3 linked regions of the Homo sapiens genome follow. The gene in region 3 interacts genetically with the main gene of each other region. Each region holds a gene or a part of one and is shown on either strand. Other genes may lie near its edges.

Region 1 (3,669 bases), on a different chromosome or scaffold from region 3:
GGGGCTGGGAGACCAAGGTGTCCACAGTTGGAAAGATGTTTTCAAGGGAAAACCAGCACAAGTCAGGGATGAACTGATCTGGTGCCCAGGGAACTTCTCACTTTACTGTGCTGCCTGGCCCAGTAACCCTGTGAAGGTTGAAAGCTCACCCCCATCTACCCCAGGCCTTACCAAGGGCTGCCCTCCACCTTCCGTCCTCACCCTTGCGCCCTAGATACCACCAGCTGTAAGGACATCCCTGGCTTCTGTCACCCCAGGCCTTGCCAAAGGGAAGAAGACCACTCCCAGCCCTCCATAAACACACAACCTCAATGGGCTGAGGCTGTGCAGAGCTCCAGTAGCAGACGCCCCAGAAACCCAGGGCCGCAAGGGGTCTGATGGATCTCAGAGGTAGAAGTAGGGCACTGACTGCCTGGGAAATGTCTGAATTGTGGAAGTGTAGGAAAGAGCTCACAGAGGGAAGGAATTTGCCCAAGGTGTGGCAAGCCAGTGGCAGAGGTGGTGTTCACATCCTGAACTCCTGGCCCTCAGGAGGGCTGCTGTGATCAGATACTTGAGTTTAAGGGGCAGACAGGATGCGCTCTCCTGATTGAGATGCAAGCCCTTCTCTCAGGCCAAGCCCGGTGTGTGCCAGGTGGGAGATGAACGTAATGGTTTTGAGATCTGTTCCAAAGTCAGACAGTCCAGGGTTCCAGTGGGGCTCTGTCCCTTCATATTGATCATGAGTGATTTTACCTCTTTAAGCCTTGTGTACTTTTCTGGAAAATGGATCTAAAGCTAATAGCCGTCTCAGGGAGTTGCTTAAAAATCCAGTGACATTAGGAAAGAGCTTTATCAACTGCTGAAGCCCCTAATACAGAACCTTAGGGGGAAACAGTAATTATTATTCATTTTCTAATTCCATCCTCTTGTTCCAGGGGAAACCCTCAGTAAAACCAGCCCAGGTCAAAGCCTCATCAGTTTCTACTAAGGAGTCTCCAGCAAGAAAGGCGGCCCCAGCCCCTGGGAAGGTGGGGGATGTGACACCCCAGGTCAAAGGAGGGGCCCTGCCCCCAGCCAAGAGGGCCAAGAAGCCAGAAGAGGAGTCAGAGAGTAGTGAGGAGGGATCTGAAAGTGAGGAGGAGGCCCCTGCAGGGACACGAAGCCAGGTGAGGCCTGGAGGAGGGCTGCCCCTTGGAGGACCTGCGGGTCCCCCAGCAGCCTGAGCACTCTGCCATGAGCACCTCTGCCACTGGAGTTGGGGAGAGGGAGGACTATGGTGTGAAGTTGAAGAGCAAGAACAGCCTGCTTCCCACAGGGGAGTCTTGCACTCCACTTTGTCTGTGACCAACTTTACCTCAGTTTCTCTGCCTAGTAAATGGGCCGCTGTCCTCGTCCCAGCCAGTCCTGCTGTGAGGGACTTGAGAAGTTTTGATTGCCTAATCCTCTGACTTCTCAGGACAAACCAGACCCTGAGCAGGCAAACACTACGTTAGCTAAAGGGAATCCAGTTCCCTTCCCCATCTGCTGGGAGTGGGCAGGGCTGCAGCCCCAAGGCCCTGGGTGTATCCCAAGGGCAAGACAGGGGGGCTGGAAAGCAATGGAAGTCAGAGCAGGAAGGAGGAAGAGTGAGGGTCACCCACCCAGCCCCAGGCCTGGGGCAGGACAAGGCGGGGGCATGCAGTAGATAAGCAGATCCCCTGCGTTAGCTGCTGGTAAATGGTAAAGAGGAAGTGGGGGACATAGGAATGGCAACTTGAAGCAGAGTGCTCTGGGCTGGCCTTGGGAGAAGGCGTCTCAGTAAAGACCAGAAGGAGGAAGCACTCTTAGGAAGGTCATTCCAGGCAGGGGCTCAGCAAGTGTCAAGGCCCTGAGGTAGAAGTAGGACTACGAATTGTGACAAATTGTTGTTCCCACCCCATCTACAGGGAACTTCTACGCCTCGGCTGTCTATTTTGCAGTGTCTGGGGGCTACACAGTGTTGGATGGGCATCCACTTTGAGAAGGAACACAAATGTGAATTTTTTTTTTGAGACAGAGTCTTGCTCTGTTGCCCAAGCTGGAGTGCAGTAGCGGCAATCATAGCTCACTGCAGCCTCACTCCTGAGTAGCTAGGAATACAGGCACACACCACCACACCCAGCTTGTGTGTGTGTGTGTGTGTGTGTATAGACAGGGTTTCACTGTGTTTCACAAGCTGTGGACTCAAGCAGTCCTCCCACCTTGGCCTCCCAAAGTGCCGTGATTACAGATATGAGCCACCGCACCTGGCCATAAATGTGAACTTTTATGTAAAATCTGCTTTCTCCATGTTGGCTCAAAAATTTAAAAAGGAGCTAGCCAAGCAAGACCTGTGTGGAGCAGCCTGCACTTTCTGCATGAGAAGCTTCTTAGAAGATCAGAGCTGCTGTTTTCTAGGGTTGTTGGCCCAGGGCTGAACACCCAGGGCCTTCCAGGGAAGACAGGGCCTGCAGCCACCCTGCCAAAGCCCCAAGACAGTGCAGAGCCCCACCGAGGAGTTAGTGAAGAGGGGGCCAGGTGTGCAAACCTTGCCCCATGAGGCTGAGGGTGGGCTTCCAGGGGTCCTGCTGCTGTCCATGTGCAGAAAGTCCAGTGAGGGCCTCCCTCAGTCCCTTCCCCACTTTCAGACTGCCTCTTCATTCCTTCCCTTCCCTGGGCCTTTGCACACCCCCTCCCCACAGCCCAGTCTGATGATGCTCCCGATAAGCCAGTGCCTGTGCCTCCAGAGCTCTCTGGCCAGTGGGAGCCCAGCAGAGGACAGGCTCTAACTACCCAGTGTGCTGGGGCACCAGGGGGAACCATGTTAAGGAAGTGGTGTCTCTTAGGGAGCCAGAGACAGAGGAGGCAGTGGCTAAGTGAAATGGAACAGGGGGCATGGAGGCTCCAGGAGTGAGAGTGTGTGAAGCTGATCGATTTTTGAGAAACCAGGAGGCCAGTGTGGCCAAAGTATCAGTCAAGGTGGGGAGTGGGGAGGGAAGCAGGGGAGGTCTTAGGAGCCTCATTAAGGCCTCTGGACTTTATCCTAAAGGCATCACCAGAGAGTTTTCACAAGCAGGAGAGCAAGCTGCCCTTTCTTTTTCACCAGGTAAAGGCCTCTGAAAAAATTCTCCAGGTCAGAGCTGCCTCAGCCCCTGCCAAGGGGACCCCTGGGAAAGGGGCTACCCCAGCACCCCCTGGGAAGGCAGGGGCTGTAGCCTCCCAGACCAAGGCAGGGAAGCCAGAGGAGGACTCAGAGAGCAGCAGCGAGGAGTCATCTGACAGTGAGGAGGAGACGCCAGCTGCCAAGGCCCTGCTTCAGGTGAGGCCTGAGGAGGGAGACTCCATGCAGCCAGGCCCGTCCCCAGAAGGCCTTCTCAGGACTTGTTCTCCCACTCTGGGCCAGAGCCCCGGGCGTGCCTCAGACCCCAGCCCCTTACTCCCCTCTCACTGTGTGGCATCATTTGCCCTATCTGGTCTTCTGTACGTGGTGTCCTGTGTCTCCTCACACGTCCATCCTCTGGGCTGTCTCCCCTTGTCTTGTTTCTCCAGGCGAAGGCCTCAGGAAAAACCTCTCAGGTCGGAGCTGCCTCAGCCCCTGCCAAGGAGTCCCCCAGGAAAGGAGCTGCCCCAGCGCCCCCTGGGAAGACAGGGCCTGCAGTTGCCAAGGCCCAGGCGGGGAAGCGGGAGGAG
Region 2 (3,607 bases), about 67 Mb from region 3:
CTCCTGACTTCATGATCCGCCCGCCTCAGCCTCCCAAAGTGCTGGGATTACAGGCATGAGCCACTGCGCCCAGCCTAATTTTGTATTTTCAGTAGAGATGGGGTTTCCCCATGTTGGTCAGGCTGGTCTCGAACTCCTGACCTCAGGTGATCCACCTGCCTCAGCCTCCCAAAGTGCTGGGATTACAGGCATGAGCCACTACACTTGGCCTAGAAGACATGGTTTTTAAGACTTTATCCCATCCTAATCCTGTGTGCTGTAGTGGATCCACATTGCAAAGGAAGCATGCAACACCGCCTGCCAGAGCCCAGCATGGGCCGTGGGGAAAGGACCGTTGCAATCACTGCTGTTATAGGCAGGGTCCTCAGGGAAGGAGGCATCCATCTGCATCTTTACCTCTGACCTAAACTCAGAAGAGTAGTGTGGAGGTCCTGGGCTTTCCACATCAAAGGCACATGTTTAATTGACTCTGTGTTTATTTGGAGTAGCATGGTTTCCCTGAAGCCACCCATTCACTGCCTCTCCCAAGGGTGACTGCAAGGACAATCTTGTTTCAGCCACCACCACTCAACCATGATGGTCTCCAAGATAATTAATTCCATGGCCTCCCCAAATTTCCTCTGCCTCCTAGCACTGATTCTTAACCCCACCAGCACTTTCTATTTATTAGGGAAATTAAAAAAAAAAAAAAAACCCAGGCCAGGCACAGTGGCTCACACCTGTTATCCCAGTACTCTGGGAGGCCGAGGCAGGCAGATCACTTGAGCCCGGGAGTTCAAGACCAGCCTGGGCAACATAGTGACACTCCATCTCTACCAAAAAACTATTTAAAAAGCCGGGCGTGGTGGTAGGCACCTGTAGTCTCAGCTACTTGGGAGGCTGAGGTGGAAGGATCGCTTGAGCCCAGGAGGTCGAGGCTACAGTACACCATGATTGCACCACTACACTCAAGCCTGGGCAACAGAATGAGGCTTTGTCTCTAAAAAAAAATTTAGACCAGGCGTGGTGGCTCACGCCTGTAATCCCAACACTTTAGGAGGCCGAGATGGGCAGATCACTCGATGCCACAAGTTCAAGACCAGCCTCAGCAACATGGTGAAACCTAGTCTCTAAAAAAAAAAAGCCAAGTAGAGGCTCGCTCCTGTAGTCTCAGCTACTTGGGAGGCTGAGGCGGTGGAAGGGTGGCTTCCGCTCCAGAGGCAGAGATTGCAGTGAGCCAAGATCATGCCACTGCACTCCAGCCTGGGTAACAGAGTAAGACCCTGTATCAAAAAAAAAAAAAAATTAAAAATTTTTAAAAACTTACAGGTGAAACTAGGGTGCTGCTAGGGTTAAGAACTGATTCTAGGCCAGGTGCAGTGGCTCACACCTGTAACGCCTGTAATCCCAGCGCTTTAGGAGGGCGAGGCAGATGGATCACAAGGTCAGGAGTTCCAGACCAGCCTGACCAATATGGTGAAACCCCGTCTCTACTAAAAATACAAAAATTAGCCAGGGATGGTGGCATGTGCCTATAATCCCAGCTACTTAGGAGACTGAGGCAGGAGAATTGCTTGAACCTGGGAGGCAGAGGTTGCAGTGAGCCAAGATGGTGCCACTGCACTCCAGCCTGGGCAACAGAGAGAGACTCCATCTCAAAAAAAAAATGAACTGATTCTACCAGTTAACCACTGGCCCCTCAAGGTCTTGCTTCCCTTGGCCCCCATAGCTTTACTCCTCTGCTCTGCCCTCATCCTCCTTCCCTTCCTTCCTTGCCTGTCATCTCCATATTTTGAACCCCTCAGCCCCTCAGCATCCCTGTCATCCAGGGCCCTCTCCCTGGATGCCATGGGCCTATTACCTCCTTGGAAGCAAATCTCTATTCTCCAGACCCATCTCCCCGACAAGTTCCAGACTGGAATTTCCACCGCCCACAGGACAGGCAGATCCACCTGCTCCACCCATACCAAGAACGTACCCGGGCTGACTGTGCTCAGCACGTCTTCCCTTGAGCCAGCTGCTCCTCTCAGGCCAGGCACTCAGCATCATCGTCACTCACCAAGTTCTGAATGCTCTTCCCTTTTGGGCTCACTGCCACCCTCCTCGGGCATGGCACCCCTCCCAGAACCCAGTCCCCCTGCCACTAATGAAAGCTTTAGGCCATGCCAGCAAACTAGACACCTTCAAGACCAAGACGAACTGGTATAGAAGACAAGGGGATGTGGGGATTGGAGCAAACTAGAGAAAGCACACAGGAGAACACATGCCGTCTTGCAGAAGTTGCATCCACTCAGCTTCAGCCAATTGTTGCTATGCGGGAACATGGACCCAAATCTTACAATTTCCCAAGCCATGCTAGAAATCTAGGTTTTAGTGTGAAATCTCTTTGTTAAATTTAGGAGACTTAATTGTAAAACATTTTCAAAATACTGTCAGTGAGCTGCCAGTTTTCAATTTCTGCTTCTGAATAGCCTTTGGAAGACCTCTGTCACCTTTTTTTTTTTTTTTTTTTTTGAGATGGAGTTTCGCTGTTGTTGCCCAGGCTGGAGTGCAATGGTGCAATCTCAGCTCATCGCAACCTCTGCCTCCCAGGTTCAAGCGATTCTCCTGCCTCAGCCTCCCGAGTAGCTGGGATTACAGGCATGTGCCACCACATCCAGCTAACTTTGTATTTTGAGTAGAGATGGGGTTTCTCCATGTTGGTCAGGCTGGTCTCGAACTCCAGAACTCAGATGATCCTCCCCCTTGGCCTCCCAAAGTGCTGGGATTGCAGGTGTCAGCCACCATGCCCGGCCTCCTCTGTCACTTTTATAGCCATCCTCTGCTCAGAGGAAAGAGCTGACACCTCTCTGCCCAGTCTCGAGGCCCCAGTCCACACTGTCTACAACTATCTACAGCCATCTTCATACCTAATGCCAAAAGAGGCTCCCCACATTAGTTAACCCTTGGAGTGATTCACTCTAAATTTGGCCGTAGCACACTAGAGACAAAGAAACACAAACACAACCCAGAAATAAGTTTCAGGCCCATCCCTCCCCTTCCCACCCAAGTCACCACCATTGCAGGAAACTTCTTCTCCCTTGCCCTACCCCTCTCACCAGTTCCACACACCAGCCCACAGTCCAGGCCCGCTGGAGACTATCAGCATCCTGTTTCCTTGGCTCCACCAGCTCCCGGAATGCTACTACCACCGTCAAACCCCGGTTATACTTGCCTCCAATGGCATTGTACTCCAGGACCTGGAGGGCAAGGAAAGAGGTACAGGGTATCAGGGTCCATACAGCAGCTACTGTGAGTTTTCTCCTTGCTCTCTCCCATTTCCAACCACCACCTAACTTTATCCTCCCCAACCCCAACTCCTCTTCAAGGAGCCTCTGGAATTGCTACTGTCTTTACTCCTTCCCCAAATTTCTGGAGCAAAGCTAGAAGAGGTCCCAGTACCCAGGCACATTCTTTCTGCATGGTCTACCCTAGTAAATTTATTTTTTGTTTTTATTTATTTATTTATTTATTTATTTTTTTGAGATGAATTCTCTCTCTGTTACCCAGGCTGGAGTGCAGTGGCACGATCTTGGCTCACTGCAACCTCTGTCTCCGGGTTCATGAAATTCTCCTGGCTCAGCCTCTC
Region 3 (3,669 bases):
AGATAGGTTTAAGACCAAAGACCAAAATTTACATGCTTAGGAATATTTTATATGTCATGGATAGCCTGTTAAACCGAAAATACTTTTGGTCTGCAATGAGAAAATACTTGCAATTAATATTGACATTGTGCTGGTAATTAACCATAATAGGAAAACAAAATTGCCTAACAATTGTTCTATTTATTTTTTATGCTGGTAGATATCTTTTGGCTTTTTGAAGGGCATGCCCAGCAACCCCCTTAGAATAAAAACTTTGAAGACAGGGCCAGTCTGGATTGAAGCTGTATGATGAGTACCTGCGATAGTGCTTGGGACACAGTGGTGCCCAAAAAATACTTGTTGACAGATTGATAAGTTTCCAGATTCTTTGAGTAGCATATTAGAAGTTAGGTTGATGACACTAGTTCTTTATTGTACATCTCTATTCCATGTAAAAATGTGTTTTCCTTGACAATTTTTTTTTCTTAAAGTCATCAGGATCAAGTAAGACTATCTTTTGCTCATTAAAGAATGAAATGAGAGGAGAACTTTTCCTGAGGTAGCTAGGCTAGGTTGGAAGACAAAAGTATTTTCCAAACATTTAGGTATAGTTATCTAAAGTCAATTTATAATCTCAGTTGTGAAAGCTTGAGCGATAGAAGGGAGCTTAGCCTGAGAACAGTTCTCTCCTTTAGGTAAATAAGGGATGTTTTAAGGACGAGGTGTTTTGTCAGTTTCCTAGGCTAGCTGGCAGGTATTGCCACTGATGCCGAGCAGCTTTGGTGTAGATCTTATAAAATGCAGCTTCTGATTGAGAGAGCTGGGCATAGTACTCTGTAGTTGTAATGAGATTCCAGGTGATACTTCTGCTGCATGCCAGGACCACATTGAGTAGCAAGGGCAGGTCCCCAGGTGATTTGTATGTACATTCAAAAGTCTGAGAACACTAGTCTAGCACAGTAGTCTTCAAACTTTTCACTTTTGTATCCCCTAGTTTTTTCTGAAAAATTGAGTACTACCTTGCATAGTTTTAAGGAATCATCTGAAAAAATTTTATTGTATGTTTAATATTTGCAAGAGATAAAATTTCCAGCATGTTGGTATTTTTAAATGACTATATATTACTTTATATGTGATGGAGTCCAAATAGCACAGGAATGGCATAGGGTTTTAATACCTTGCGTTATTCATTTTAAAAAAAATTATGAACAAGCTTTTAATAGATGGACATTTTATGTTCCTCTTTGTTGTACTTCTTGCAATAAAAGTATGTATCAATATTTATACTTTTTTTGTTTATATCCTGTAAGTTTTAAGAATTAAAACTTTTTCTAGGTTGAGACATTGCTATCATTAATAGTTGTACACAGCTGATCAATATAACGTGTATTAAACGTGTTGTTGGCCAGGTGTGGTGGCTCATGCTCATAATCCCAGCACTTTGGGAGGCCAAAAGGAAGGATCACTTGAACCCAGGAGGTCTAGGCTATGGTGAGCTGTGATTGTGCTAGTGCGGTCCAGCCTGGGTGACAGAGCAAGACTCTTTTTTTTTTTTTTTTAATAAAGTTATCTAAAACTTTTCCCCAATTTTTTATGTATTTGTGGGTGACTTTTATGTATTTCTAGAATGAGAAAACATTTAGCATTGATTCTGCTATTTTTTTTAATTGACATAAATTCTGAGAAACCTTAGTCACATAAGTAAGTAGATGGCAGTGAATGGAGTTTAATTATAGCCGTGTATCAGGTCTGTGAATTTTTTCTAAATTATTGATGAAAAATTGCATAATGATTTATTGTAAAAAATTACGTTGTTCTGCAGTTTTGATGAGCAAAGAATTGGGAATTGCCTAACTTGCAAAAGGAGATGTTAGAGTTATTTACTTTTTCAACACCTGTGTTTTCACCTTCAGATAGTGTGTAATGATTTTGATTGTGAAGCTTTGACTATGTAGGCACAGCTGTCTAGGAGATTAACTTGTGGAAAGAGTATGTAAGGAAATCAAATATCTGCAAGTTAATTGTTTTAAAAGTATCTTTGTAAAGTACCTGTTGGTCTTTGTGTACTTACTGGGGTACAATTACCCAGCTGGACTAGAGGGGTCTCATAGTTACGTGGGAAGATAAGAAGATGTAGCAATGTAACTAGTCATTCATATAATAGCACTGTATCTAAGCCCAAATGTTCTTAACATTGGGATTGCCAATACTTTAGAGATATAAATGCTAATTTTTGCAACTGTTTTAATCTCATTTGTATATAATATCATTGAGTTACTAGGAATTTGGTCCTTAAAAAATAAAAGCCCACTTGGGGTTTGCAGAACATGGGTAGGTAATAAAGACCATGTTTGCCTAGAATGACCCTGACATTTTACCCATTCTAAATACCTGGGACTGTGCTTTTGGGGGCCTGTTTGAGAGATTCTCCGCAAATTATTTGGTACAAGGATGAAAGGATGATTGAATCAGATTTAAAGGATCTGGTGACTCTAGTAGCCCCAAAACATCAAATTAGAAATGTTTTTATCTGCTAAAAATAATTAATATAATGTAGAAGGGTTTGTTTCAAGTGAAGCTGGCTTTGGTACTGGGAATGGGCTGGGTCAAGTAATGCCTACTGTTTACTTGTTAAAACTTCTTATCAGAAGTAAGTTTTTTGAATAGTTGAACTGGAGCCACTTGGATAAAAACTCTCTTCTTTTTCGTTTTTATAGCCATTGGAGGGAAAAGGAGGAAGGATTTTGCTCAGACAACAAGTGCTTGTTTAAGTTTTATCCAAGAAGCTCTGCTGAAGCACCAATGGCAGCAAGCTGCAGAATACATGTACAGTTATTTTCAGACCTTGGAAGATTCAGATAGCTACAAAAGGCAGGCTGCACCTGAGGTAAATAAAATTTGAGTTTGCTGGAAGAAATGATAGATTCCCAGAAGTTTATGCCTACAGCTTCACCTACAGTAGCTTTTACAGAATCTCAGTGATTTTGCTAAAAGCTACTAAAACTACTTTTGAGTGGAGAGTTTGTATTGGGACCTTTTTTGCACACTTCTTTTTACCTCTTATTTTAAAGGGGACTAAAATGTTCATTCCAATAATTCTTCCTTTTCCCCCCTCTTTATGGATGTTTCCCATCATCATGTAAAAATTTTGTTATTCTATCTTTTTTTTTTTTTTTTGAGACGGAGTCTTGCTCTGTCGCCAGGCTGGAGTGAAGTAGCGCGATCTCGGCTCACTGCAATCTCTTACCTCCTGGGTTCAAGTGATTCCCCTGCCTCAGCCTCCTGAGTAGCTGGGACTACAGGCATGTACCACCACGCCCGGCTAATTTTTTGTATTTTGGTAGAGACGGGGTTTCACCAGGTTGGCCAGGACGGTCTCAATCTCTTGACCTCGTGATCCGCCTGCCTCGGCCTCCCAAAGTGCTGGGATTACAGGTGTGAGCCACCATGCCCAGCCTATTCTATCTTAAAATCATCTCTTGACCCAAACTTCCCCCATAGACTATACTTCATTGTTTTACTCTCTTTCAGCAAAACTTCTTGAAAGAGTTGTTCTCTTTTTCCAACTAGAGTGATCCTTTTTTTTTTCGTTTTATCAAGACGTTTTTTATACGCCATCACCCACTTAAATTGTACAATTCAATGTATTTTCATACATTTACAGAGTTGTGCAACCAACCATTACCACAC

Evidence for each region.
Region 1: changes in TAF1A (region 3) and TCOF1 together harm fitness more than expected from each alone (negative genetic interaction), as found in Homo sapiens cells (one large-scale study listed by BioGRID).
Region 2: changes in TAF1A (region 3) and FDPS together harm fitness less than expected from each alone (positive genetic interaction), as found in Homo sapiens cells (one large-scale study listed by BioGRID).

Annotation. Positions count from the first base shown.
Region 1 is NC_000005.10:150,371,089-150,374,757, forward strand, and holds part of TCOF1 (treacle protein), read left to right. Parts: intron 1-917; coding exon 918-1,148; intron 1,149-3,085; coding exon 3,086-3,298; intron 3,299-3,528; coding exon 3,529-3,669.
Region 2 is NC_000001.11:155,311,866-155,315,472, reverse strand, and holds part of FDPS (farnesyl pyrophosphate synthase), read right to left. Parts: intron 3,219-3,607; coding exon 3,078-3,218; intron 1-3,077. UniProt on the Homo sapiens protein: Key enzyme in isoprenoid biosynthesis which catalyzes the formation of farnesyl diphosphate (FPP), a precursor for several classes of essential metabolites including sterols, dolichols, carotenoids, and ubiquinones.
Region 3 is NC_000001.11:222,583,325-222,586,993, reverse strand, and holds part of TAF1A (TATA box-binding protein-associated factor RNA polymerase I subunit A), read left to right. Parts: intron 1-2,696; coding exon 2,697-2,866; intron 2,867-3,669. UniProt on the Homo sapiens protein: Component of the transcription factor SL1/TIF-IB complex, which is involved in the assembly of the PIC (pre-initiation complex) during RNA polymerase I-dependent transcription.